Homo sapiens: one gene and its partners. The protein of the gene in region 2 purifies or fractionates together with the protein of the main gene of each other region. This does not show direct contact. Each region holds a gene or a part of one and is shown on either strand. Other genes may lie near its edges.

Region 1 (3,500 bases), on a different chromosome or scaffold from region 2:
AGGGTGCTGTTGCCCCACCCATGGTGGCTTTTCTTTTACATCACCTGACACACTTTGATCCCTGTCAGAATTGTACAGTGGACTTTGAGCTAAAGAAACTGATGGAAAAATCTTTCCACAGAGGGTCAAGAAAGCTAGGTTCTGGGGTGGGCTCTGCTGCTTAACAGCTATGTTGCTGTGGGCAAATCATTTCCAGTTAGATGGGATACTCTCAGCCACCCAAATAAGCAATAAGGATTAAGTTATCAAAACAGTGGTATAGTCATGCACCCTTTGGATCTAGGCTTTGGGTGAGGAGTATAAGGAAGACATCACCAGAAATCACGTCATCCTTAACATCAGACTGCATGGGAAAGGTAGGGCAGGGCATGGCTACTTCCTCATCCAGAGCTCAGACCACAGCACCTGCAGCATACTCAGTGGACACTCTGGAGTTGTTCAGATGGTGCTTGGTGAGCAGCTCTACTATTCAGGGGCCCTTACCAAGTTTCAGGTGGGGGTACTAAAGACACATGGGTATGGTCCCTGTCCTTCAGGAGCTGATGTTCTGGTATGGCAGAGAGTTACTTATGGAAAGCATTCTGAGATAGAAGGGTGCTAGGAGAGAGGTTCCACAAATGCTATAGGATTTCAGGGGGTCAGATGCTTCCAGTTTGATGAGGAAAGTGTCATGAATGAATTGGCACTTGAGTTGGTATCACCCACCTGTGCTGGGTCAAAAGTTTATGAAGAAAGCAGAATGGAGCTAGGCGTGATGGCTCACACCTGTAATCCCAGTGCTTTGGGAGGCCTCTAATATTTGTTGACAGTGATTTTGACGTCTGTGCTTGTTGGGTCATTTACTACTTGATGGCTTATGTTTAGGCTGCCCTGCCCAGCAGCCTTGAACCCAGGAGTTTGAAACCATGCTGGGCGATATAGCAAGATCCTGTCCCTACAAGAAATGTAAACAATTAGCCAGTTGTGGTGGTGTGTGCCTATAGTTCCAGCTACTCAGGAGGCTGAGGTGGGAGGATCACTTGAGCCAGGGGAGGTTGAGGCCGCAATGATCTGTGATCACACCACTGCACTCCAGCCTGGGCAACAGAATGAGACCCCGTCTCAAAGAAAAAACAACAGTGGAAAGGAAATCTGCAGAGAACAATAAAAGCAAAATTGTGGACTCCTTGAGGATTTTTTCACAAATGCTTCTGTCTTTAGTTATGGCTGCCATTAAATGTAATTTTTTTTTCCTCAAGAAATTTTTCTGAGCTTGGTGTTCTACAAAAAACAAAAACAAAAAAACTCTAGATCTTCGTTTATATACAGGCTGTCCTAGACTTCCTTGTGGCTGAAGTAGCTGGTTATGTTTTTGTTCTGAATCTCAAACATTAATCTCTTTTATTAAAATCCTCTAAAATACAGTCATTTTTTCCATGAAATAGACCACAAGTTGCTGTGTTTCTTATTTTCAGAAATTTAACTTGTTTTTAACCTTTATTTCTAACTCTGGTGGACTTAGAGGACATTTGAATTTAATCTTGCAATGTTTGAAGCTTGTGGGAGTAAAATGTTTAGAATCTGTATTTTTAGCACTAACTCTGATATTAACACCACCTGCATCTTTTCCTAGTAAATGGGGAGCAGGAGAACCGAGTGCAGAAGGGAAATGGATATTTTCAAGTGCCCCCACATACACCCGTGATCTTTGGTGAAGCTGGAGGTCGCACACTGTTCAGGTATGGGTAAGAAAGACAAGAGGTTCTGCCTGAGAAGGTATCCCATTTGCTAAGAAGTGTCGACTCAAACTCAGTATTTCGATATTAGAAATAGTTTATTATTAAATTCTAGGGATGCCAGGGATTGGAAGCATCCCATGTCCATGAGATAGTGAAATGTCTGCTGCTGTTAGACCACATTCTAATTGGGAGGAGAAACTCTAGTGTTCGAATGAGGTAGAATACTTTGCCTCGAAGCAGCTTCTCTATTGGTTTCTGTAGGTAATTCTCACTTTCCTTCACTTTGCCCGTGTGACTGCAAGGGCCAAGCAACAGATGATACCACTAGAATTCCCTGCCCACAGAAGAGCTTCAGAGTACATTACATTACTTTTCTTAGGCTGATCCAGCCAAGATGAGCTGGGCTGCTCCTGGGAACTGTTGAGGCTGACACTGACACTGCCTGGGGTGCCAGACAGTTATGTGTGGGGCCCTTCAGGGAAGGGCTGGACTGGTTCACCTCCAAGTTGCTAGCAAGGTCCTGGTAGAGCCGGGGGAGAGCTTACTAGTCTATAGGTGCCAGAAGAAAGAAAGAATAAGACATGCTTGTCTTATTCTTGAGTGCAGGATTATCTATCTTTCTGATAGTTTCCTGAGTGGTTACCAGAAATATTCTGACTTCCACTGTGTGTGAAAGTCTCTGCCATGCACTGTGGCACTAGCTGGGGACCTTTACTGGGTGCTTTGCTTGCACCCAGGTTTCCTGTCATCACCCAAGGACTCCAAGAAGCAGCTGTAGTGTATGCCTGGCCTTGGAATCTGGGGGCCTGATTTTAGGGCCTGCTTTCCCTTTTAGCTGAGTGAGTCATTCTTCCAGGCTGTACTTTTATTTCCTCAGCTGTCAAGTGGGGGTTATCCTACATGAAAACCATGAGGGTTCCTCCCGCTAATATTTGTTGACAGTGATTTTGACATCTGTGCTTGTTGGGTTACTTACTACTTGATGGTTTATGTTTAGGCTGCTCTGCCGAGATTCCGGGGGTGAGACTGAGTCTATGCTTCTTAATGAAACAGTGCCACAATGGGTAATTGACATCACTGTGGATGTAAGTATCCTCCACTCCCACTTTGCTCTTTTATTTTTTTGTAACTCATGAAATTAAGAACTGCTTTAGACATTATAATTTTAAACCTTAATAAAAGCTAGACTCCCAAGTGGAATCCCCATCTGCTTCCTTGCAGTTCCAAAGTTGCAGAAATAGTACTGATAATTATTTATCTATCTAGCTTTGTTGGTTTTTAATTATAAAAATAATATATGCTTATTCAACAAAATAATAAATGAATGAAGCTCTCATCTTCCCCAAGCATTCATTCTTGCCCATTCACTCCCTATCCTTCCTCCCAGAGGTAACAACTATTAATAAATTAATGCATAGCCTTCAGTACTTTTTTCTTTGCATACAAGCATATATTATTTGTGTACATAGATGTGTCTACAGTTCATTTTATATTGCACAAAATCTCTTATACTGTTCTGCAACTTTTTTTTCACCTAAAAAAATGTATCCTGGACATCTTTTCATGTCTGTACATCTTTTCATGTCTGTACATGTGAATCATTCCTTTTTAATGACTGTGTAAGATTCTACTGTATAAATGTACCATAATTTATTTAATCAGTCCCCTATTAATGGACATTTAGGTTGTTTCCAATGTTTTCTATTACAAATAGTGCTGCAGTGAACATCCTTGTACATATATCTTTGTGTGCTTTTTAGGATAAATTCCTAGAAGTGGAAT
Region 2 (3,500 bases):
TACTTAAACTGATTTCAGGTCTTTACCCACCCATACAAACCTTACATTTTACTTCGTTGGGGCAGTTGTTTTTAGGTGGCCGTTGGTCTTGATGTTTCGAGAACAGACATACTTAGATAAAGTCACGTAAGATTTCAGTTCTCACCTTGCACACTCTGGACATGTTGGGGCATCCATTTACCCGCTCTGTCACGTTGAACACGTTCTGTATGCCCTCTGAGTCTTATCTGGGGCTAAAGTGGGGACAATAATTTATCTCACAGTTATAATGAATATGTATTTATGGTAACATCCAAACTCTTGTTTTGTTTTGAAATGGGGATCTCGCTCTGGTTGCCCAGGCTGGAGTGCAGTGGCACGGTTAGGACTCACTGCAGCCTCGACCTCCCAGGCTCAAGCGATCTTCTTGCCTCAGCACCCCCTCCGCCAGTTGTTGGGACCACAAGTGCATGCCACCATGCCCAGCTGATTTTTTTTAATTTTTGGTAGAGATGGGGTTTCCTTATGTTGCCCAGTTGGTCTTGAAATCACGGGCTCAAGTGATCCTCCCACCTTTGCCTCCCAAAGTGTTGGGATTGCAGGCACGAGCCACTGTGCCCAGCCAAAAATCCAAACTCTTCCTCATCGACTATAACATTTCTGCCTAGTTCTGAAATGTGTTTTCATTTCTCCCTAATTCTCATCTTGAGCAACCATCTCTGCCTTACCAGGGTTCTGCCCTAGCCTTTCCGTTCCTCAACAATCTAAGCTGCTTCCTGCTCCGCCACCTTTGACACAGTAGTTCTGTTTGCCTACAGTGCCTTCGGTGGCTCCTGTGGTTGGTTCATTCTCAGATCTTAATGCCAGTGGCACCACCTCAGAGCATCACCACCTCAGAGAAGACTTCCTTGACTACCTTATGGCTCCTTCAGTAATCCCAAGTAATTGACTTGTGTGGTTCCTTCATAACCTCTATTATTGTCTGTAATTACTTTGTTTACTTGTTTCTGCTGTTCCCCCGCCACCCCCCCCAAATAAGTTCTATGAGGGCAGAGTGTCTACTGTGGTCCTTCTTTTCTGTGTCCCTGACACATCCCAGGGGGCCTGGCCACTGAGTAGGAGGGGTGTGGGTATACAGAAAGTAGTTGCGGTTTTCATGTTGTTATCTACACCTTAAAGGCAGAGATGTGCTGTGTACATGTTAGAAAGTTGTTGGTATTTCATGTCGTTTGTCCTTTTCTGAGCTGGTCTGCTTGCCTGGCTGAGTAAATCATAGCACTAATAAAACCAAAGTCCTTATCATTACATGGCCCCAACAGCCCCACAGAGAGACAACTGTCACTGCCTGTAGAGCTATGATGTGTGTCTGAGTGACTCAAGTACCAGACTGACTGGCAGTGTAGACGCCCAGATCTCTTTCACTTCTGGAAGTATAGTCATGTATAGTGTATAGAAAGTCACCATCCCAAAACCCATTTCTCCTGCTTACATAGCTTAGTGAAGTGAAACCTCAGTTATCTGAAATCTCCTGGTATCCTCAGTTTTCTGGTGTAGAATTAAGCCAGAAGGAAAATCTCCTTTGGAATTAGAAAAGCCAGAGACTTAGAAGCCCTCCATGCTAACTAAGGAAGACAGTCTCTCATGGGGATGCAGATCTAGGTTTGAATTTCAGCACTTCAATTTTATAGGGTAGATTAAAACAAAAAAAAAAACTTAAGGTTTTGTTCCTTTACGTATATAATAATGATGATGTTTCTCTCAGAGCTGGTGTGATAATGGAATGAGATAGCCGGGCGCGGTGGCTCGCGCCTGTAATCCCACCACTTTGCGGGGCTGAGGCGGGTGGAGCAGGAGGTCAGGAGTTCGAGACCAGCCTGGCCAACATAGTGAAACCCCGTCTCTACTAAAAATACAAAAATTAGCTGGGCATGGTGGCACACACCTGTAGTCCCAGCTACTCGGGAGGCTGAGACAGGAGAATTGCTTGAACCTGGGAGGTGGAGGTTGTGGTGAGCCGAGATTGTGCCACTGCACTCCAGCCTGGGCAACAGAGCGAGACTCCGTTTAAAAAAAAAAAAAAAGAAAGAAAATGGAATGAGATAATGCATGTTAGTGTATTAAGTGCCTGAAATATAACAAGTGCTAATACTTTAACACTAGTATTCTACTCCTTTATCTGACTGCTTTTGACTAGTTAGATTATGTTTTAAAGTAATAGTAATAATTCCTATTTAAAGTAATTATTACTATTAATTCTTTTCTGTGTCCCTGACACATCCCAGGGGGCCTGGCCACTGAGTAGGAGTCCGTTTTTCTTGTCAGTTTTTTTTGTTGTTGTTCTTTGGAGGGGAGTTCCCTCAATTTTTCTTTTATTGGATGTTTACTTTTTGGCTGTGGGAGTTTTGTTTTCTAACTGTTCTCCTCACCCCCTCTTTTATAATATATAATAATGGTAATAATTCCTATTTAAAGTAATTATTACTATTAATTTAAAACATAATCTGACTAGTCAAAAGTAGTATTCTGATTAATCAGCCACACCTGTGTTAGACTTGAATGTTTTTGTTAAGGAAGCCTAATGTGGGAAAAGTGTTTGAGACCAAAAGAGCAAGAGAAATGGAAATGAAAGCAGTAAGTGAATGGGCGCCTTCAGAAGGATTGCTAGTGCAAGCTGCTAGACTGGTAAGGATTACAGGTGGTCACAGTGTTAGCAGCAATTGCCTGACCTGGCTGTGGGGTCATTGCAGTTCATTGGTGGGAGACCGAGAACAAAAAAGATGCCGCACTTGCCTTCTCTGCAGAGCCTTCTGCTCTGATTATGTTTGTTCTGATACTGTTTTATCACTCCTAACAGCGAACACACTAAAATACTTTCTAAAATTGTTAAAAGGGCATCACACTTGGAGACTGGGGAGTGATGATTATCTTATTTTCCATAGCATCGGACTCTTGAGTATAGAGAAGAAAAGAAAGAAGACAGGATATATCTGAAGGCCTGGAAGGCAGGCAGTAATCTGAACATCAGTAAGTCCTAATGGTGTCATTATGCCATCCTGAAATTTTCCAGCAGATAAATTTGGTCATCTGGAGAGGCATCCATTTATATACAGCAGTTTGTGACAGTCTGAGATTATACTTAATATACACACTTGTGCTTAAAATACCTTTTTGAAGACAGGAATGTATGGCTCCTATTAGATAAGATTTCCATCAAAAACAATTTCAATAGTTCAGTGTTAATCTTTAGACAAGGTATTTTTACCCAGCGCTCTGGGTAGCTGATTATTTGGTGCTGTTTATGGTGGCACTTACAGTGATTTTTGTGGTACACATTGTTCTGACCATATCAATAATATGCTAGATGGTTGAAGCAGCTGGGTTAGCATGCTTTGAAAGTCAGATGAATTCTTACTGGTAGATTTTTACTGTATCTGTATGTTACTTGTTTAAAGTTTGTTGTGATGTGTATAATAATGGTGTTTGTTTTTAAAGCTTAATTTTGGTTTTCAGTAATGTATTAC
Region 3 (3,500 bases), on a different chromosome or scaffold from region 2:
GCCGGAAGCCATTGCTATGAAGGTGCAGGCCATTGGACACACCGTTGGACACACCGTTGGTGGACATCTTGCCATTCTGGACTTCTGGCAGGAGATAGTGAGAAAGTGACAGCAACAACTCAGGAAGAGGACCCATTTCTTCCTGGCAGCCCTCTAGCTTCCATCACGGGGTCTGATGGTTCCATCGTGGGACTGTTCTCCCAGAGTAAGATCCATTCCCAGAAAGCAAGTTCTGACATAAAGAAAAGCCCGTGCGCCCTCTGCTGGCTGGCGAGGGACACAACTTCACCGTGGCATTACTCAGCTGGGGCTGGGGCTGGGGCTAGGGCTGGGGCTGGGGCTAGGGTTGGGGCTGGGGCTAGGGCTGGGGCTGGGGGTGGGAATGGAGTGAGGAGGTGCCTAAATCAACTGTAGGCCCCAGGAAGAAATCAATGAGAAGACTGGGCCAGGATACAAAGGAGAGGGGAACTATTTCAGGTTCTCAAGAGCCAAGCCATGGAAGGAACCTGTCTTTTCAGAGGGAAGCAAAAAGGGCAGTGATGCAAAGCTCTTGAAGAGATCTCTGCTCTATTGTCATCCTCTTTCTTACTGCATAGGTGGGGTTATTTCAGAGATCTGCTATTTTTGGAGGATCACGGTCCAGAGTAAAGGGCAGGCTTCTCAGCAGGTGTAGCATGCACTTAAGCTCCCCTACACCGCCGCAGTAGAGATACCCTAAGGGAGAACTTACCCCCCGAGGAGTGGCATTTTCTAGGCAAGAGGAAGGTGTACGGCCGCTGCTTGTAAGTCAAGTCAAACAAATAGACCTAGAGTTGAGGGGGGCAAAAAAAGAGATGGAAGCTGTGAGGTAAGGATGTGGTTGAACCAGTAAGCAGGTCTTGGTTTCTCAAGAACTAGAGTCTTGGAACACAGTGAGTGTTGAGCATAGAACAATCAAGCTATCCTAAGAGGTACTTCCAGCAAACCTCAGGCTGGAAAATCTTCCTAGCTCTAGCATTCAGGGTGGGCTATCTGATCTACCCAAAGTCCTGCTTGAAATACTATCATTAATTAGAATCACATTTGGCTGGGCATGGTGGCGTAGCCTGTAATCCTAGCACTTTAGGAGGCTGAGGCAGGAGGGTGGTTGCTTGAGCCCAGGAGTTTGAGACCAGCTTGGGCAACATGGCAAAACCCCGTCTTTACAAGAAATACAAAAACTAGCCAGGTGTGGTGGCGTGTGCCTGTGGTCCCAGCTACTCAGGAGGCTGAGGTGGGGGAATCACTTGAGCCTGGGATGTCGAGGCTGCAGTGACCTGAGATTGTACCACTGCACTCCAGCCTGGGTGACAGAATGAGACCCTGCCTCAAAACAAACAAACAAACAAACAAAATAGAAGGTCAGGTGCAGTGGTTAATGCCTGTAATCCCAGCATTTGGGAGGGTGAGGTGGGCGGATCACCTGAGGTCAGGAGTTCGAGACTAGCCTGACCAACATCGTGAAACCCCATCTCTACTAAAAATACAAAATTAGCCAGGCGTGGCATGTGCCTGTAATCCCAGCTACTTGGAAGGCTGAGGCAGGAGAATTGCTTAAATCCAGGAGGCAGAGCGGAGGTTGCAGTGAGCCGAGATCGCACCATTGCCCTCCAGCCTGGGCAACAAGAGCGAAACTCCAACTCAAAAAAAAAAAACAAAAAACACGTCACATGTTTAAAAAGATGAAGAAGTCCTCAAAGGTCACAAAGCCAAATGTTTACCCTAGCACTACTCCTGAGCTTTTCATGATTCCTTGGACAGGTCCAGGAATGTCTGGCTTATCCTCACCTATTCTGCATCCCGCTTCATTTGTATATATTTGGGCCTTGCCTTGTAATGTCATTAACTGTTTCGTTTGTCATGTCTCCCATCAGCCTGGGGATGGATCATATTTCCCACTTGTCTCTATTATATTTATAATAATGCGAGTCCCAGAGTAAGTGCTCAGTGTTGGTAGAGTAAATAAATGTATGCAAGGCTTACTAAATATCCTGAGAGCACACAAACAGAAGGTTTAGCAACCTGCCATTATCAAAGAACACTTCCCAAAGCTGGCACTAACCCACAGCTTGCTCTGAGCTGCATGCTCTGAGCCCCAGGGATTTCCTCCTAGGAAAATAGCAGACGAGGAAACTGAGGCTCAGAAAAATAAAGAGACTTGCTCAAAGTCACAGTAAACAGCTGCTGAACAGCAGGCCAGCATTTGAACAGAAGTCTGTCCATTCCAAAGCCTATATTCTTAACCAAAATGCCATACTATCATATTTCTATCTAGTTCATTAAGAAAAAATGAAATAAAAAGACTGAGCTAGGACATCTCTCTGGGAACTCCAATGATGCCACATCACCCCCACATTTCAATGTAACATCATTTACCATAAGGCTGTTGTGTCTTGTCTGCCTCAGCAGTGAACATAAGGTACATGCCCCTGGCTGCTGGGCATGGAATGGTGATGGGGCAGAACCACCTTATGCTGTACATACCTGTTCCCCCCCCATGTTGACTAGTAGCTCTGTGCCATTGGGGCTGAAGGTCACATAGGTGGCAACCAGCACTCTCAAACGGTTGTTGTAGTCAGGAAGCTTCACTGGCAGGTGACCTGCAGGGAATAGCCCAGTCATACTAGGGTCCCAGTCCCTTTCAAAGGGGCATGAGATTGTGTGAAGTCAGTCATATCAAAAATTATACCAATCAACTTTAGCATAAAAGCAGCTACAAGTGTTGAGCCCTTACTATATGCACTGGGCTAGTTGCTTTATATATTTTATCTCATTTAGTCATTATAACCCCATTTTACTTAACCTTGATGAGTTTCTTTTCTGTAATTTGCTGAAGGTGACATAGCTTGTCAATGGCAGAGTTGGGATTAAAACTCAGGTCTGTCTGACTCTAAAACCCTTGCTCTTGACCACCATGCCATGCTGTCTCCCTGGACTGCCCCCAAAAGAGTCAGCATCTAGCCGAGAGTTTGGGGCCAGAGCTGTGCTGAGCGCTACCTGCTACGTAATACTGGGCTGCACCGTCCGGAAGGGGTTTCTGCCGGTCACAGAAGGTGTGCACACCCGCTGAAGGGCTCTGCTTCATGCTCTTTCTGGTGGGAAGGAAAATCATATAGGTTAAAGTTACAGCACTGCCCCTGGCTAGACCAGACCACACTCACTAGACGAAAACTTACATTTGTATCTGAGACATACAGGAGGTATTTTTCCTCCTTACCTAAGCAACCCCAAAGGCCCACCAACTAGACAATTACAGACATATACATTACAGTGCTTTACCAGGTAGGTCCTATAAGCTGTCTGGGTCTTCATGACCATCTTATTTTTCCCATTTTACAAACAAGCAAGCTAAGGTTCAAGACCCGCTCCAAGCCATGCAGTGTGTGAGGGGCAGCAGTGGTCACCAAGCCCATGAATGAAAATAAACAGGCGACATTCCTGCATCCATCCCAAGAATCATGGAAAGCCCAGGCTGGAGAGGC
Region 4 (3,992 bases), on a different chromosome or scaffold from region 2:
AGAAACGTTGGTCCTGGTGTGGTCGTGGTTAGGTAGCCTTCAAATTGGTTGCAAGCAGAGCCTTGGTTCTCCAAGAATGAAAGGTAGGGTCTTGAAGAAGGCAGGGTTTGTAAGGCATCCTGCCTCACCTTTTTCCTGCCCTCCTCCACCAGCGGTATCTGACCTCAGAGGCAGAGGAACACCACCAGCTCTTCGATCTGATTGAAAGCATGCTAGAGTATGAACCAGCTAAGCGGCTGACCTTGGGTGAAGCCCTTCAGCATCCTTTCTTCGCCCGCCTTCGGGCTGAGCCGCCCAACAAGTTGTGGGACTCCAGTCGGGATATCAGTCGGTGACGATCAGGCCCTGGGCCCCCCTGCATCTTTTATAGCAGTGGGTGTCCAGTCCAGGACACTGGTGCTTTTTTATACAAGAGAACGAGCCAGAGTTCACTCCTTCCTCCTGGCTCTCTATATACCTGTGAATATGTGAAATAGTGTAAATATGAAAGAACTTGTACCTATCACTTCAACCCCTGCCTTGTACATAATACTATTCCATCCACACAGTTTCCACCCTCACCTGCCCCCTCATACGGAGTTGGATGGGGGCCGAGTGAGGTAACCAGGTGGCATCTACCCCATGTTTTATAAGGAATTTTGTACAGTCTTTGTGAAATAAAATAACGTGCTTCATTTGACCCCCATCCCTGGAGTTGGAGGTTTGGGAATGCTGGGGTGGAGGGATGAAACTATTGGCAAACTTTCTGAGTTTGGGTATGAAGGGAGTCCTCCTTACCCTCCAAAATGAAGCACAGCCAGGCTACCAGTTTATTTCCCCTGTCCACCTTATCATATGGGAGGGTAGTGATGGGTGGGGCAGCATTTCTTTCAGATTAAAACAGAGAAGTGTTATGAGGTGGCACTTCTCGGATGTGGAATTATGAGAGTTGGGAAAGATCTGACTCCTAGAGTCATTAGGCCGCGGCCCAGTATAGAGCCAGAAACTCAGGTTGAAAACGTGCTCAACCTGGCTCCTAGGGGGGATTGCCACGACCGGTCAGAAGGCTCCCGTCGTCCATCTCGGGAGACTAGGAAGGCCGGATTCCTACGCGAGGCCTGCTGGGAAGTGTAGTTCGTTAGTGGAAGGAAGTCACATGGAAGAGGGGCGGTAGTTGGTTGTGGGCACTGGGTTAGAGGTATCACGTGGGGGCACTTTCGTCTTAGCTTTTGGACAAGACGCAGGCGCAACCCACGGCTGCTGCGGGGATCCTTGTGGCCCTTCCGGTCGGTGGAACCAATCCGTGCACAGAGAAGCGGGGCGAACTGAGGCGAGTGAAGTGGACTCTGAGGGCTACCGCTACCGCCACTGCTGCGGCAGGGGCGTGGAGGGCAGAGGGCCGCGGAGGCCGCAGTTGCAAACATGGCTCAGAGCAGAGACGGCGGAAACCCGTTCGCCGAGCCCAGCGAGCTTGACAACCCCTTTCAGGTGACTTGCGCCAGTCGGCCTCTTTTGGGCGGTCAGGTTGATTCTTCCCGGTTCTGTAGGGTCGGGCTAACTTGTATCCCCATTTGTGACATTTGATCCTGGGAAGAGCCGCCACGTGGGGTGACAGTGACTCCAGACCAGTGAGCACTCTGGGGGGCGGGCCCTGCCCCTTAATGGGCTGGTGCTGGCAGTGTTGGATGATGGATTTGAGGTAAATGTTGTCCCAGTCCTGGGACAACGGCGTGGCCCCGAAGGTGCAGTACTTGGAGCCACAGGCAGTTTGGGAATGGTCCCTGGGAATTCCCCTAGGTGGCACTGGGTGCCAGCTGAGACCCGGGTCTCTGCCCTCAGGACCCAGCTGTGATCCAGCACCGACCCAGCCGGCAGTATGCCACGCTTGACGTCTACAACCCTTTTGAGACCCGGGAGGTGAGCTACTGGAGAGCATAGGAGTTCAAGGAAGGGAAGGGTTTGCCAGTGAGACAAGTTAGCTTGGGTACAGGGGACTTTTCTGCATGCACAGGAAGGAAGAGGCACTGTGATCTTAGTTCCCTGAGAGAGGCTAGTCAGCCATGGGATGCCTCATCCTTCTAGGGCCACCAGGGCCACCAACCCAAATGGTTTGAGCTCTAAAAGTCAGTCCTGGGAAGATCTGGAGGCTGGCAAGGCCTTAACCAATGTTCTGTATGGGAAGGCTTTCTTGAAGAAAATAAAGGTTGGGGCTGGTTGGAGTTTAGGTTAGGTGTGCAGTTTGAAAGCAAGGAATGAGGAGGACTACACCTGTTTGTCCCACTGGATTAGAAGATGGTGAGTTGTAAGAATTTAAGGGGTTTTCATGGTACTTAAAACTTAAAAAAAAAAGCCAAGCATGGTGTGCATGCCTGTAATCCCACTTGGGAGGCTGAGGTGGGAGGATTGCTTGAGCCCAGGAATTTGATGGAGACCATCCTGGGCAACAGCGAGACCCCCATCTCTTGAAACGTTTTAAAAATTGGCTAGGTGTAGTGGCACATGCCTGTAGTCCTTGCTACTTGGGAGGCTGGGATGGAAAGACTGCTTGGGCCCAGGAGTTTGAGGCTTCGATGAGTGATGATTGCACCACTGCACTCCAGCCTGGGTGGCAGAGAGACAACCCCACACTCCATCCCCAGAAGAAAAGAAAAAAAAAAAACACAGTTAAGTGGGGAGATATGGTAAATGAGTGATTTGAGTCCTCACTAAGGAATTGGATATGAGGGATGATAAGGCTGCTACAGGTCATCATAGAGTTCTCTGACAGAAATTCAACAGAAGAACTAGCTTCCTAACAAATGGGGGAAAGGCTGCTTCCTTACATCATGAGTTCTGGGTCTAAAGGTATTCAAGCAGACTCTAGATTCCTGTGTTATGAGGGACTAGATGATCACTAAGGTCTTTTCCTCAACAGCCACCACCAGCCTATGAGCCTCCAGCCCCTGCCCCATTGCCTCCACCCTCAGCTCCCTCCTTGCAGCCCTCGAGAAAGCTCAGCCCCACAGAACCTAAGAACTATGGCTCATACAGCACTCAGGTACAGGAGGTGTGCAGGTGAGGGCTGGGGAGAAGGGCCAGTCCTGGGGCCCAGGGCTCACATCTCCGTCTGCTCACACTGGGCAGGCCTCAGCTGCAGCAGCCACAGCTGAGCTGCTGAAGAAACAGGAGGAGCTCAACCGGAAGGCAGAGGAGTTGGACCGAAGGGAGCGAGAGCTGCAGCATGCTGCCCTGGGGGGCACAGCTAGTAAGTAATAGAGTGGGGAAGAGCATCTGAGAGTTTGGGAGGAGCAAAAACAGGTCTTAAGGGCCTGGGCTCGGCTGGGTGCGGTGGCTCACACCTATAATCCCAGCACTTTGGGAGGCTGAGGTGGGCGGATCACGAGGTCAAGAGATCGAGACCATCCTAGCCAACATGGTGAAACCCTGTATCTACTAAAAATACACACACACAAAAATTAGCTGGGCATGGTGGCGCGCACCTGTAGTCCCAGCTACTCGGGAGGCTGAGGCAGGAGAATCGCTTGAACCCGGGAGGTGGAGGTTGCAGTGAGCCGAGATAGCGCCACTGCACTCCAGCCTGGTGACAGAGTGAGACTCCATCTCAAAAAAAAAAAAAAACACAAACCTGGGCTCTGGAGTCAGACTGCTGAGTTTGAATTTTAGAGATACTGCTTACTAACCATGAGCTTTTAGGGAAGTTACTTAATCTTGAATGCCTCAGTTTCCCTATTTATAAAATGAAAACCACGTTTGCATCCGTTTGACAGGGTTGTTGTGAAGGTTAAACAAAATATATGTGAAGTACTTGGTACAGTGCTTAGATGTTTTAAATAATAATAAACAGTATTAATTTTTCCACTCTCACTTGTCTCCTTGGACCCCAAATTGGAGATAAAAGAGAGGATCCAGGGCTGGGTATGGTGCCTCACGCCTGTAATTCCAACACTTTGGGAGGCCGAGGCAGGCAGGTTGCTTGAGCTCAGGAGTTAGAGACCAACCTGGACAACATAGTG
Region 5 (3,500 bases), on a different chromosome or scaffold from region 2:
TCAAAAAAACATCTAAACTAGAATCCGTCTGTGGTATTCAGCTAGAACAAAAAACAGAAAACAAAAATTTTGAAACTACACAAGTATGTAATGAAAGTCCACATGGAGATGGCTACAGCTCAGGGGTTATTAAAGACATTTGGACAAAGATGGCAGACACAAATTCTGTGGCTACAGTAGAAATAGAAAGAACTGATGCTGAGTTGTTTTCGGCAGATGTAAATAACTACTGCTGCTGTCTAGATGCTGAAGCTGAACTGGAGACCCTTCAGGAGCCTGATAAGGCTGTGCGGAGGTCAGAGTACCATCTGTGGGAGGGACAGAAAGAGAGCCTGGAGAAAAGAGCATTTGCTTCTAGTGAGCTATCAAACGTGGATGGTGGTGATTATACAACACCCTCTAAACCCTGGGATGTAGCCCAAGATAAAGAAAACACATTCATTCTTGGAGGAGTTTATGGAGAACTCAAAACCTTCAATAGTGATGGGGAGTGGGCAGTCGTACCACCTAGTCACACAAAAGGAAGTCTGTTACAGTGTGCAGCTTCTGATGTTGTGACGATAGCTGGTACAGATGTCTTTATGACCCCAGGAAACAGTTTTGCTCCTGGGCACAGGCAGTTATGGAAACCCTTCGTGTCATTTGAACAGAATGATCAGCCGAAGAGTGGGGAAAATGGGTTAAATAAGGGATTTTCTTTTATCTTCCATGAAGACTTACTAGGAGCTTGTGGCAACTTTCAAGTCGAAGATCCTGGACTTGAATACTCATTTTCTTCCTTTGACTTAAGCAATCCATTTTCACAAGTTCTTCATGTAGAATGCTCATTTGAACCTGAAGGGATTGCATCTTTCAGCCCCAGTTTTAAACCGAAATCAATCCTCTGTTCTGATTCAGACAGTGAAGTGTTTCACCCCAGGATATGTGGTGTTGACAGAACACAATACAGGGCTATTCGGATCTCTCCTCGGACTCACTTTCGCCCAATTTCTGCATCCGAACTGTCCCCAGGAGGAGGAAGCGAGTCAGAATTTGAATCTGAGAAAGATGAAGCAAATATTCCCATTCCTTCTCAAGTTGATATATTTGAAGATCCGCAGGCAGATCTCAAACCTTTGGAAGAAGATGCAGAGAAAGAAGGCCATTACTATGGAAAATCAGAGCTTGAGTCTGGAAAATTCCTTCCCAGGTTAAAAAAATCTGGGATGGAAAAGAGTGCTCAGACATCACTGGATTCCCAGGAGGAATCAACTGGGATTCTTTCAGTAGGAAAGCAAAATCAGTGTTTGGAATGTAGCATGAATGAATCCCTGGAAATAGATTTAGAAAGCTCAGAAGCAAATTGTAAAATAATGGCACAATGCGAGGAAGAAATTAATAATTTTTGTGGTTGCAAAGCAGGTTGTCAGTTTCCTGCTTATGAAGATAATCCAGTTTCTTCGGGACAGCTGGAAGAGGTATGTGTCTGCGTGTTGGTATTTGACAAAAGGATTTGATCAGAGTTTAACCCAAGAACAGACATGCCAGTCAATGAAAGATAGGGTTAAATTATTGGGAAATTAGCTTAAATGTCTTAAAACTTAAATTGTTCTAATTTTACATGTAAGGACTTAAAATGGATTTGATATTTATGAATTTGAACTAGACAGTAGAGTTTTTCTGGAGAGAAAAAGCTTTTAAAAATCACAGGATGTAAGATTCCTATGTGTTGTCTTAAGATGCATGTTATTGGCCGGGTGCAGTGGCTCACGCCTGTAATCCCAGCACTTTGGGAGGCCGAAGTGGGTAGATCATTTGAGGTCAGGAGTTCAAGACCAGCTTGGCCAACATGGTGAGACCCCGTCTCTACTAAAAATACAAAAATTACCCAGGCGTGGTGGCAGGCACCTGTAATCCCAGCTCCTTGGGAGGCTGAGGCAGGAGAATCACTTGAACCCGAGAGGCAAAGGTTGCAGTGAGCCGAGATCGTGTTCTGTACTCCAGCCTGGGTGACAGGGTGAGACTCCATCTCAAAAAAAAAAAAAAAAAAAAAATACATGTATTATGCTTAAAGCAAAAACCTAACATGAAAGTGTTCTAACATTCAAAGTTGATGAATCAGGAAGTGGCTGCTATTAAAGTGTAGCAAACCTGTCTAACTGACTCTTAGAAGTTGATCACTTTATCAAAACTTGTGTTTTACATATAAAACAAATTATATCTCTATGGAGTTCTCAAAAATACATTGTGGTACATGTAGAAATTCACCCACAGCCCAAATGCAACAAAATTTCTTCTACAGAACCTATACAGATGTATCTTGCTTTATACAAAGTACATATTCCAGAAGCTGTGTGGATTATATGTTAAGGCTATGGAATGAGGATCACATTAAGTTGTGTTAATGAGAGTCATTGTACCTCTCCACTGTATGCCCAAGAAATGGCTTAAGGTTAAACTGATTGTACAAGAAATAACACTTAAGACAATAAACTGTTTCACAAAAAAAGCACAGCAGTCTGCCCATTTTTCCACTGTTTTCGATATGTGAGTGCCTAGCCTTTCTCCAGAAATAGTTTATTTAATTTTGTTTTTGTTTTTGTTTTGTTTTGGGGACAGAGTCTCGCTCTGTCGCCCAGGCTTGAGTGCAGTGGTGCGATCTCAGCTCACTGCAACCTCCACCTCCCAGGTTCAAGTGATTCTCCTGCCTCAGCCTCCCAAGTAGCTGGGATTAAAGGCATGCGCCACCACGCCCGGCTAATTATTTGTATTTTTAGTAGAGACGGGGTTTTACCAGGTTGGCCAGGCTGGTCTTGAACTCCTAACTTCAAGTGATCCACCTGCCTTGGCCTCCCAAAGTGTTGGGATTACAGGCGTGAGCCACCGCGTCCGGCCCAGCTTATTGAAAAAAAGAGATGGAGGTGTTTAGAAGCCATGCCACCTGTGGCCAGAGAGCAGATGAGTGTTGCACTTCCTCCCAACTGTCCTGCACACCCTACCCACCATTGCACATCCAAATCCTACCCATACCATGAGACTTATTTCATATACCACCTCCTTCACTGACACTTTCCCTAATTCCCTCTCTCCCCTGCTCCAGCCCCACTCTGCATCAGAATTAATTTTGCCCCTCTCTTAATTTTCATGCACTTTATGCCTCTTTTTGATTGCATTTTTCATTTCTCATGAGTTATTTATATCCTGGACTATAAGCTCCTTGTGGCTGTGGACCATGCCTTACTTATTTGTCGCATCAGAGTGCCCAGGTGTGGGACTGCTTGCCTGTGATTCTAGGAAGCCCCCAGGCGACTTGAGAGGCACTGCTCTAATCAGCTACCTAGAGACCCGTAGAGGATGAATTTAATCCCATTGAAACACTGCTAAGAAAAAACCCAATAATATTGTTAGCCTTTATCTGTTTGTTTATTGCCCCATTTTTCATCCTTAAATATTCCTTTATGTACTTTGTATTTCACCTGGTTCCAGATTGGGAAGAAAGAAAAAGAGGAAAGAAGCAAGAT
Region 6 (3,500 bases), on a different chromosome or scaffold from region 2:
TTGGGAGGCCAAGGCGGGAGGATCACGAGATCAGGAGATCGAGACCATCCTGGCTAACACAGTGAAACCCTGTCCCTACTAAAATACAAAAAATTAGCCGGGCATGGTGGTGGGCGCCTGCAGTCCCAGCTACTCCAGAGGCTGAGGCAGGAGAATGGTGTGAACCCAGAAGGTGGAGCTTGCAGTGAGCCAAGATCACGCCACTGCACTCCAGCCTGGGCGACAGAGCAAGACTCCATCTCAAAAAACAAAACAAAACAAAACTATGAGATTCTATACAAGGTATGTAGGAAAAAATATTTTAAATGAGTTTAATTCAAGAAAACATGGGCCAAATGTTTTTATAGAAACTAATGAAATACCAGTTAAATATCAGCATAAGTGTGACTGCTTAACTGCTATTGTTAATGTGAATAAAAAGCTTTTTAAAAAAGTGAGAATTTGGGTTTGTTTTCCCCACAGAAATAAAAAGATAAAGCTAATCTTGAACCAAGAAATTAGCCTAGTAGCCTTCATGAGATCATCTCTTTAGCTGTATACTGAATCTGATAGGAAAATTTAACTGTGAAGAAATGGGATTACCAATTATGATATGGTGGCATCCTAATTTCCATTTTATGAGAAACAGCAACCAGATACACAGTATGTCATATCAACACTAAACAGCACAGAGACATCTGCTCATTAAAGAACAACTTTTGCTGGCCGGGTGCGGTGGCTCACGCCTGTAATCCCAACACTTTAAAAGACCGAGGCGGGCGGATCACGAGATCAGGAAATCGATACCATCCTGGCCAACATGGTGAAACCCCATCTCTACTAAAATACAAAAAATTAGCCAGGCGTGGTTGCCACATGCCTGTAATCCCAGCTACTCGAGAGGCTGAGGCAGGGAAATCGCTTGAACCCCGGAGGCGAGATTGCAGTGAGCTGGGATCGCGCCACTGCACTCCAGCCTGGCAACAGAGCAAGACTCTGTCTTGAAAAAGAAAAAAAACAAACAAAACTTTTGCCATATGTTTTCTCTTACGGCTATGTGTAAATCACCTACAAACTTTTCTAATACCGTCAATTTTACTCTCGCTTTCTGATTCATCCCAGAATAGTCCTGATCTCAAAAAAAAGCCAACAATGAATAATTGAAAGAATGTGGTAGGCCAGGCGCGGTGGCTCACGCCTGTAATCCCAGCACTTTGGGAGGCCGAGGCAGGCAGATCACGAGGTCAGGAGTTCGAGACCAGCCTGACCAACATGCTGAAACCCTGTCTCTACTAAAAATACAAAAATTAGCCAGGCATGGTGGTGCATGCCTGTAATCCCAGCTACTCGGGAGGCTGGGGCAGGAGAATCGCTTGAACCCAGGAGGCAGAGGTTGCAGTGAGCCGAGATCATGCCATTGCACTCCAGCGCTCCAGCCTGGGCAACAGAGCAAGACTCTGTCTCAAAATAAAAAAATAAAAAAAATAAGAATGTGGTAGTGGCATACAAATAGACCAAATGAAACAGAACATAAAGTCCAGAATAAGACCCAATTACTTATGGAAATTTAATATATAATGAAGGTGGCATCCCATATCACTAAGGAAAAGATGGACTTTATTAAGTAGTGTTGGCTAGCCATTTGTAAAGAAGTAAACCAGTATAAACACCAAATGGATCACAAATCAAAATTTTTAAAAATGAAACTTTACAAAAACCTTTTAAAAAGCAATTCCTTTGCAATTTGGGTCCAGTGAAAATCTTTCTATGACTCAGAATCCACTTGCAAGAAAAAAAATGATAAATTCAATTACACCAGAATTGGTGTAAAAAGAAAAACCAAGAAAAAAGAAAACCAAGTTAAAAGAAAAATGAAGAAAAAATTTGTGCAATATGTATCACAGATAAAGGACCAATTTCCCTGACAAAGAACTTTTAAAAACTTAAAAGATAAAAAGCCCAAAAGGAAAGCAGGCAGTAAACACAAACATATATAAATAGTTACGTTTTATGAAAAGATGATCAATTTCATATGTAAAAGAAATGCATATGAGGCTGGGCATGGTGGCTCACATCTGTAATCCCAACACTTTGGGAGGCCACGAGGCGGGCGGAATACGAGGTCAGGAGTTCGAGACCAGCCTGGCCAACATAGTGAAACCCCATCTCTACTAAAAATACAATAATTAGCCGGGCATGGTGGCACACACCTGTAGTCCCAGCTACTTGGGAGGCTGAGGCAGGAGAATCGCTTGAAACCAGGAGGCGGAAGTTGCAATGACCTGAGACCGCACCACTGCACTCCTGCCTGGGTGACAAAGTGAGACTCAGTCTCAAAAACAAACAAACAAAAAAAAATGCAAATGAAAACCACACTGAAATGCCACTTCTCACATATCAGAGTGGCAAAAATTCAAAAGCTTGAAAACACTGTTAGTAAGGCTGTAGAGAAACAGACATTCATACATTGTTCATGAGAGTGTAAAATGGGACAGCTCCTATAAAGAATAGGCAATAGCTAATAAAATTTTATGTGTAGTGGGCTGGGCGTGGTGGCTCACGCCTGTAATCCCAGCACTTTGGGAGGCCAAGGCGGGTGGATCATCTCAGGACAGGAGCTCGAGACCAGCCTGGCCAACATGGTGAAACCCCGTCTCTACTAAAAATACAAAAATTAGCTGGGTGTGGTGGCAGGCACCTGTAATCCCAGCTACTCAGGAGGCTGAGGCGGAAGAATCACTTGAACTCAGGAGGCAGAGGTTGCAATGAGCCGAGATCGCGCCATTGTACTCCAGCTTAGGCAACGAGCAAAACTCCATCTCAAAAAAAAAAAAATTTATGCGTAGCTACTCTTTGAGCCAGCAATCCCACTTCTGGGAATTTTCTCTGAGGAAAACGCCATATGCACAGAGTTATTGGATGTGGCATTATAATAGCAAATTACTCAAAATAATCTAAATGTCCTTCCAAGGAAACCATTTGAATAAACATTGTGCAATCCCTATCATGGAATACTATGCAGCTACATAGAAATAAATAATTAAAAACAAGCTCTCTATGTTCTAATATGGGGTAATTTTCAAGACATCTTGCTACAAGAAAAAAGCAAAGTACAAAACCTCTATAACATTATCTTTTGTTTAAGAAAGAAAAGGGGCCGGGCACCGTGGCTCATGCCTGTAATCCCAACACTTTCCCAGGGCAAAACGGGCGGACTGCTTGAGCCCAGGAGTTTGAGACCAGCCTGGGCAACATGGCGAAACTCTGTCTCTACTAAAAACACAAAAAATTAGCCGAGCGTGGCAGGATGTGCCTGTAGTCCTGGCTACTCGGGACACTGAGGTGGGAGGATAGCTTGAGCCCAGGAGGCGGAGGTTGCAGTGAGCCCAAATCGCACCACTGCACTCCATCCTGGACGACAGAGCAAGAATCTGTCTCAGAAAAAAGAAAGAAAAGGAAATAAAAATACATATACATGCCAGCGCGGTGGCTCACACCTGTAATCCCAGCACTTTGGGAGA
Region 7 (3,500 bases), on a different chromosome or scaffold from region 2:
CCGGGCGGCTGGCCGGGCGGGGGGCTGACCCCCCCACCTCCCTCCCGGATGGCACGGCTGGCCGGGCGGGGGGCTGACCCCCCACCTCCCTCCCGGATGGGGCGGCTGGCCGGGCGGGGGGCTGACCCCCCCTCACCTCCCTCCCGGACGGGGTGGCTGCCGGGCGGAGATGCTCCTCACTTCCCAGATGGGGTGGCTGCTGGGCGGAGAGGCTCCTCACTTCTCAGACGGGGCAGCTGCCGGGCGGAGGGGCTCCTCACTTCTCAGACGGGGTGGTTGCCAGGCAGAGGGTCTCCTCACTTCTCAGACGGGGCGGCCGGGCAGAGACGCTCCTCACCTCCCAGACGGGGTCTCGGCCGGGCAGAGGCGCTCCTCACATCCCAGATGGGGCGGTGGGGCAGAGGCGCTCCCCACATCTCAGACGATGGGCGGCCGGGCAGAGACGCTCCTCACTTCCTAGATGTGATGGCGGCTGGGAAGAGGCGCTCCTCACTTCCTAGATGGGATGGCGGCCGGGCGGAGACGCTCCTCACTTCCCAGACTGGGCGGCCGGGCAGAGGGGCTCCTCACATCCCAGACGATGGGCGGCCAGGCAGAGACACTCCTCACTTCCCAGACGGGGTGGCGGCCGGGCAGAGGCTGCAATCTCGGCACTTTGGGAGGCCAAGGCAGGCGGCTGGGAGGTGGAGGTTGTAGTGAGCCGAGATCACGCCACTGCACTCCAGCCTGGGCACCACTGAGCACTGAGTGAACGAGACTCCGTCTGCAATCCCGGCACCTCGGGAGGCCGAGGTTGGCGGATCACTCGCGGTTAGGGGCTGGAGACCGGCCCGGCCAACACAGCGAAACCCCGTCTCCACCAAAACCAGTCAGGCGTGGCGGCGCGTGCCTGCAATCGCAGGCACTCGGCAGGCTGAGGCAGGAGAATCAGGCAGGGAGGTTGCAGTGAGCCGAGATGGCAGCAGTACAGTCCAGCTTCGGCTCCGCATGAGAGGGAGACCGTGGGGAGAGGGAGACGGAGACGGAGACGGAGACGGAGACGGAGAAGGAGGGAGAGGGAGAGGGAGACGGAGAGGGAGACGGAGAGGGAGAGGGAGAGGGAGAGGGACGGAAGTTATAAGATTCTAACCCTCCCTAAAATGCTCCTAAGATCAGTGCTTGAGATATTTTGCAGACCCTGCACTTGATAGACCAACTGGCACCACCCAGATCAATAAACTGGCTCGTCTGATCTTATGTCCCCTACCTAGGAACTGACTCAGCACAAGAGGACAGCTTCAACTTCCCATTTCATCTCCAACCCAACCAATCAGCACTCTGTTCTCTGGCCTTCCCCCACCCACCAAATTATCCTTAAAAACTGATCCCTGAATGCTCCAAGAGACTGATTTGACTAATAATAAAAATCCTGGTCTCCCACACAGCTGGCTTTGGGTGAATTGCTCTTTCTCTATTGCAATTCCCCTGTCTTGGTAAATCAGCTCTGTCTAGCCAGCGGGCAAGGTGAACCTGTTTGGCGGTTACATGATTTCTCTTTTTTTTTTAAAAAAAAAAACAACAACTAATTTTTGAACGATTAATTACTTTAGTGTTTATATTGTATTATTCAGATATATAGTGAGTATCTTGAACCTTGAGCTTATTGAACCTTATATATAATAAAGCTCATTACTTAGGAGTTTATTCAGTTAAGAAGTAATGGAGTACAAAAAGAAGGTTTAAGTCCAATCTAAATTTTCTTTTATTTAGCTAAGATTTTCTTCTATGTCAGATGACAGTTGAGTCTTCTCAATGAAGGTGAGGCTTATAGGGATGAATTCACTTTCTAAACTAAGCACACCACCCCCTCCGGAGTTGCATTTTTGTTGAGGACCTTAACTGCCACTGACTCCCCTTGAGTAGCAAGGTGTTGAATGAGAGGTACTTTTATCAAAGGGAGCATAATGCACATGAAAAACCCAGAAGTGAAAGTAAGATTTTATATGGGTGTTAGGATGGGCATAGACTTTTAAGTTTATTGTAATTGACACTAATTAGAGACTTGTATGCTTACACTATGCTTCAGGCCCTTATTTTATCTGTGAGTAAAGTTTATTGCAATTCAAAATAGTTCAGTGAAGAAAGTATACTTTGTTATTGTGGCTAAAATGAAATAGCATTTGTTAATGCCTCATTGTGATAAAAGGGCTATTCACGGAGATGACTGAAAAGGAGGAAAGGAGCCTTTGATCCCTGTGATAATGAAAATGAATCCTTTTTTTTTTTTTCCTATCCCCTTACTCATACACTATCAGGCTAGATCTTGCCTTTGGGATACCATTTAAAGGAATTATAAAAAGAGGGTAGAGTTTTAAAAGGAAGCCTAGGGGATATAAGGTATGTAAATGAAGGCAGATCTGAAGCTTAGAAGATATTAAGAAGACCCTGAGGGTAATTCAGTTTTGTGCTGCAGTGATGTTAAAAGGTGCTAATCATAGGGCCAGGTGTGGTAGCTCATGCCTGTAATCCCAACACTGGGAGGCAGGTGGATCACCTGAGGTCAGGAGTTCGAGACCAGCCTGGTCAAGATGGTGAAACCCCATCTCTACTAAAAATACAAAAAAAATTAGCCAGGCATGGTGGCAGGCACTTCTAATCCCAGGTATTTGGGAGGCTGAGGCAGGAGAATCACTTGAACCTGGGAGGCAGAGGTTGCAGTGAACCAAGACTACGCCATTGCACTCCAGCCTGGGCAACAAGAACGAAACTCCATCTCAAAAAAAAAAAAAAAAGCTAATCATAAGCTGGCACAGTGGCTCACACCTGTAATCCCAGCAGTTTGGGAGGCTGAGGTGGGTGGATCACGTGAGGTCAGGAGTGAAACCCTGTCTCTACTAAAGAATACAAAAAAATTAGGCACGGTGGTGTGTGCCAAATGGAGGTTGCAGTGAGCCGAGATCGTGCCACTGCACTCCACCCTGGGCAACAGAGCAAGACTCAGTCTCAAAAAAGAAAAAAAACTAATCATAGGTCATTAAAAAAATCTAAAAGGCTATGAAGGAGACATTTCTACCAATATTTAAAATAAAAGCTTTGTTCTTAAAATGAGTAAATAATGAGCTAGGTAGAAACTTTGGCTATTCAGAATAATCTTTTCCCCAGAGGCAACCACCATGGATAACAGATTACTGTAATAGACTGGAAACTAATCTGAAGTGAAAATTGAAGCAAGGAAGCACATTGGAATAAATAAATCAGCAGTTGAAAGCAATAAAGACTGCATTTAACTACACCGAAAAGTGCTAAGTAGGATTTCCAACATGATATTGAAGGTTCAATAGGAGTTGTCAGTTTGGTTTGAGTAACTTAAAATTGTCAAGTTAAATAGTTGATTAAGGATGAAGATAGCCAGAAAATTAGTAGCTACTATTTTAATTGATAAAAGTAACATCAATTTAAAATTTTTCACTATTTTTAATTAACATGGTGCTAAAAATGAATGGGTTGTACAGGGGAAACGG

The links.
Region 1: the proteins of SOCS6 (region 2) and WDR48 purify together in Homo sapiens (affinity purification with mass spectrometry, with the first as the bait; one large-scale study listed by BioGRID). This does not show direct contact.
Region 3: the proteins of SOCS6 (region 2) and WDTC1 purify together in Homo sapiens (affinity purification with mass spectrometry; 2 studies listed by BioGRID and IntAct, with this or other methods). This does not show direct contact.
Region 4: the proteins of SOCS6 (region 2) and SCAMP3 purify together in Homo sapiens (affinity purification with mass spectrometry, with the first as the bait; one large-scale study listed by BioGRID). This does not show direct contact.
Region 5: the proteins of SOCS6 (region 2) and KIAA0232 purify together in Homo sapiens (affinity purification with mass spectrometry; 2 studies listed by BioGRID and IntAct, with this or other methods). This does not show direct contact.
Region 6: the proteins of SOCS6 (region 2) and POLA1 purify together in Homo sapiens (affinity purification with mass spectrometry, with the first as the bait; one large-scale study listed by BioGRID). This does not show direct contact.
Region 7: the proteins of SOCS6 (region 2) and HIGD1A purify together in Homo sapiens (affinity purification with mass spectrometry, with the first as the bait; one large-scale study listed by BioGRID). This does not show direct contact.

The regions. Positions count from the first base shown.
Region 1 is NC_000003.12:39,086,516-39,090,015, forward strand, and holds part of WDR48 (WD repeat-containing protein 48), read left to right. Parts: intron 1-1,612; coding exon 1,613-1,718; intron 1,719-2,715; coding exon 2,716-2,803; intron 2,804-3,500. UniProt on the Homo sapiens protein: Regulator of deubiquitinating complexes, which acts as a strong activator of USP1, USP12 and USP46. Enhances the USP1-mediated deubiquitination of FANCD2; USP1 being almost inactive by itself.
Region 2 is NC_000018.10:70,292,045-70,295,544, forward strand, and holds part of SOCS6 (suppressor of cytokine signaling 6), read left to right. Parts: exon of another isoform or gene 1-3,003; intron 3,004-3,034; exon of another isoform or gene 3,035-3,500. UniProt on the Homo sapiens protein: SOCS family proteins form part of a classical negative feedback system that regulates cytokine signal transduction.
Region 3 is NC_000001.11:27,293,632-27,297,131, reverse strand, and holds part of WDTC1 (WD and tetratricopeptide repeats protein 1), read right to left. Parts: intron 3,111-3,500; coding exon 3,016-3,110; intron 2,619-3,015; coding exon 2,503-2,618; intron 807-2,502; coding exon 731-806; intron 85-730; coding exon 1-84. UniProt on the Homo sapiens protein: May function as a substrate receptor for CUL4-DDB1 E3 ubiquitin-protein ligase complex.
Region 4 is NC_000001.11:155,259,561-155,263,552, reverse strand, and holds the start of SCAMP3 (secretory carrier-associated membrane protein 3), read left to right. Parts: upstream 1-1,192; 5' UTR 1,193-1,401; coding exon 1,402-1,467; intron 1,468-1,818; coding exon 1,819-1,896; intron 1,897-2,893; coding exon 2,894-3,016; intron 3,017-3,102; coding exon 3,103-3,223; intron 3,224-3,992. Other genes in the region: dual specificity protein kinase CLK2, read left to right, coding at 153-335. UniProt on the Homo sapiens protein: Functions in post-Golgi recycling pathways. Acts as a recycling carrier to the cell surface.
Region 5 is NC_000004.12:6,862,727-6,866,226, forward strand, and holds part of KIAA0232 (uncharacterized protein KIAA0232), read left to right. Parts: coding exon 1-1,457; intron 1,458-3,465; coding exon of another isoform or gene 3,466-3,500.
Region 6 is NC_000023.11:24,710,918-24,714,417, reverse strand, and holds part of POLA1 (DNA polymerase alpha catalytic subunit), read right to left. Parts: intron 1-3,500. UniProt on the Homo sapiens protein: Catalytic subunit of the DNA polymerase alpha complex (also known as the alpha DNA polymerase-primase complex) which plays an essential role in the initiation of DNA synthesis.
Region 7 is NC_000003.12:42,794,491-42,797,990, reverse strand, and holds part of HIGD1A (HIG1 domain family member 1A, mitochondrial), read left to right. Parts: intron 1-3,500. UniProt on the Homo sapiens protein: Proposed subunit of cytochrome c oxidase (COX, complex IV), which is the terminal component of the mitochondrial respiratory chain that catalyzes the reduction of oxygen to water. May play a role in the assembly of respiratory supercomplexes.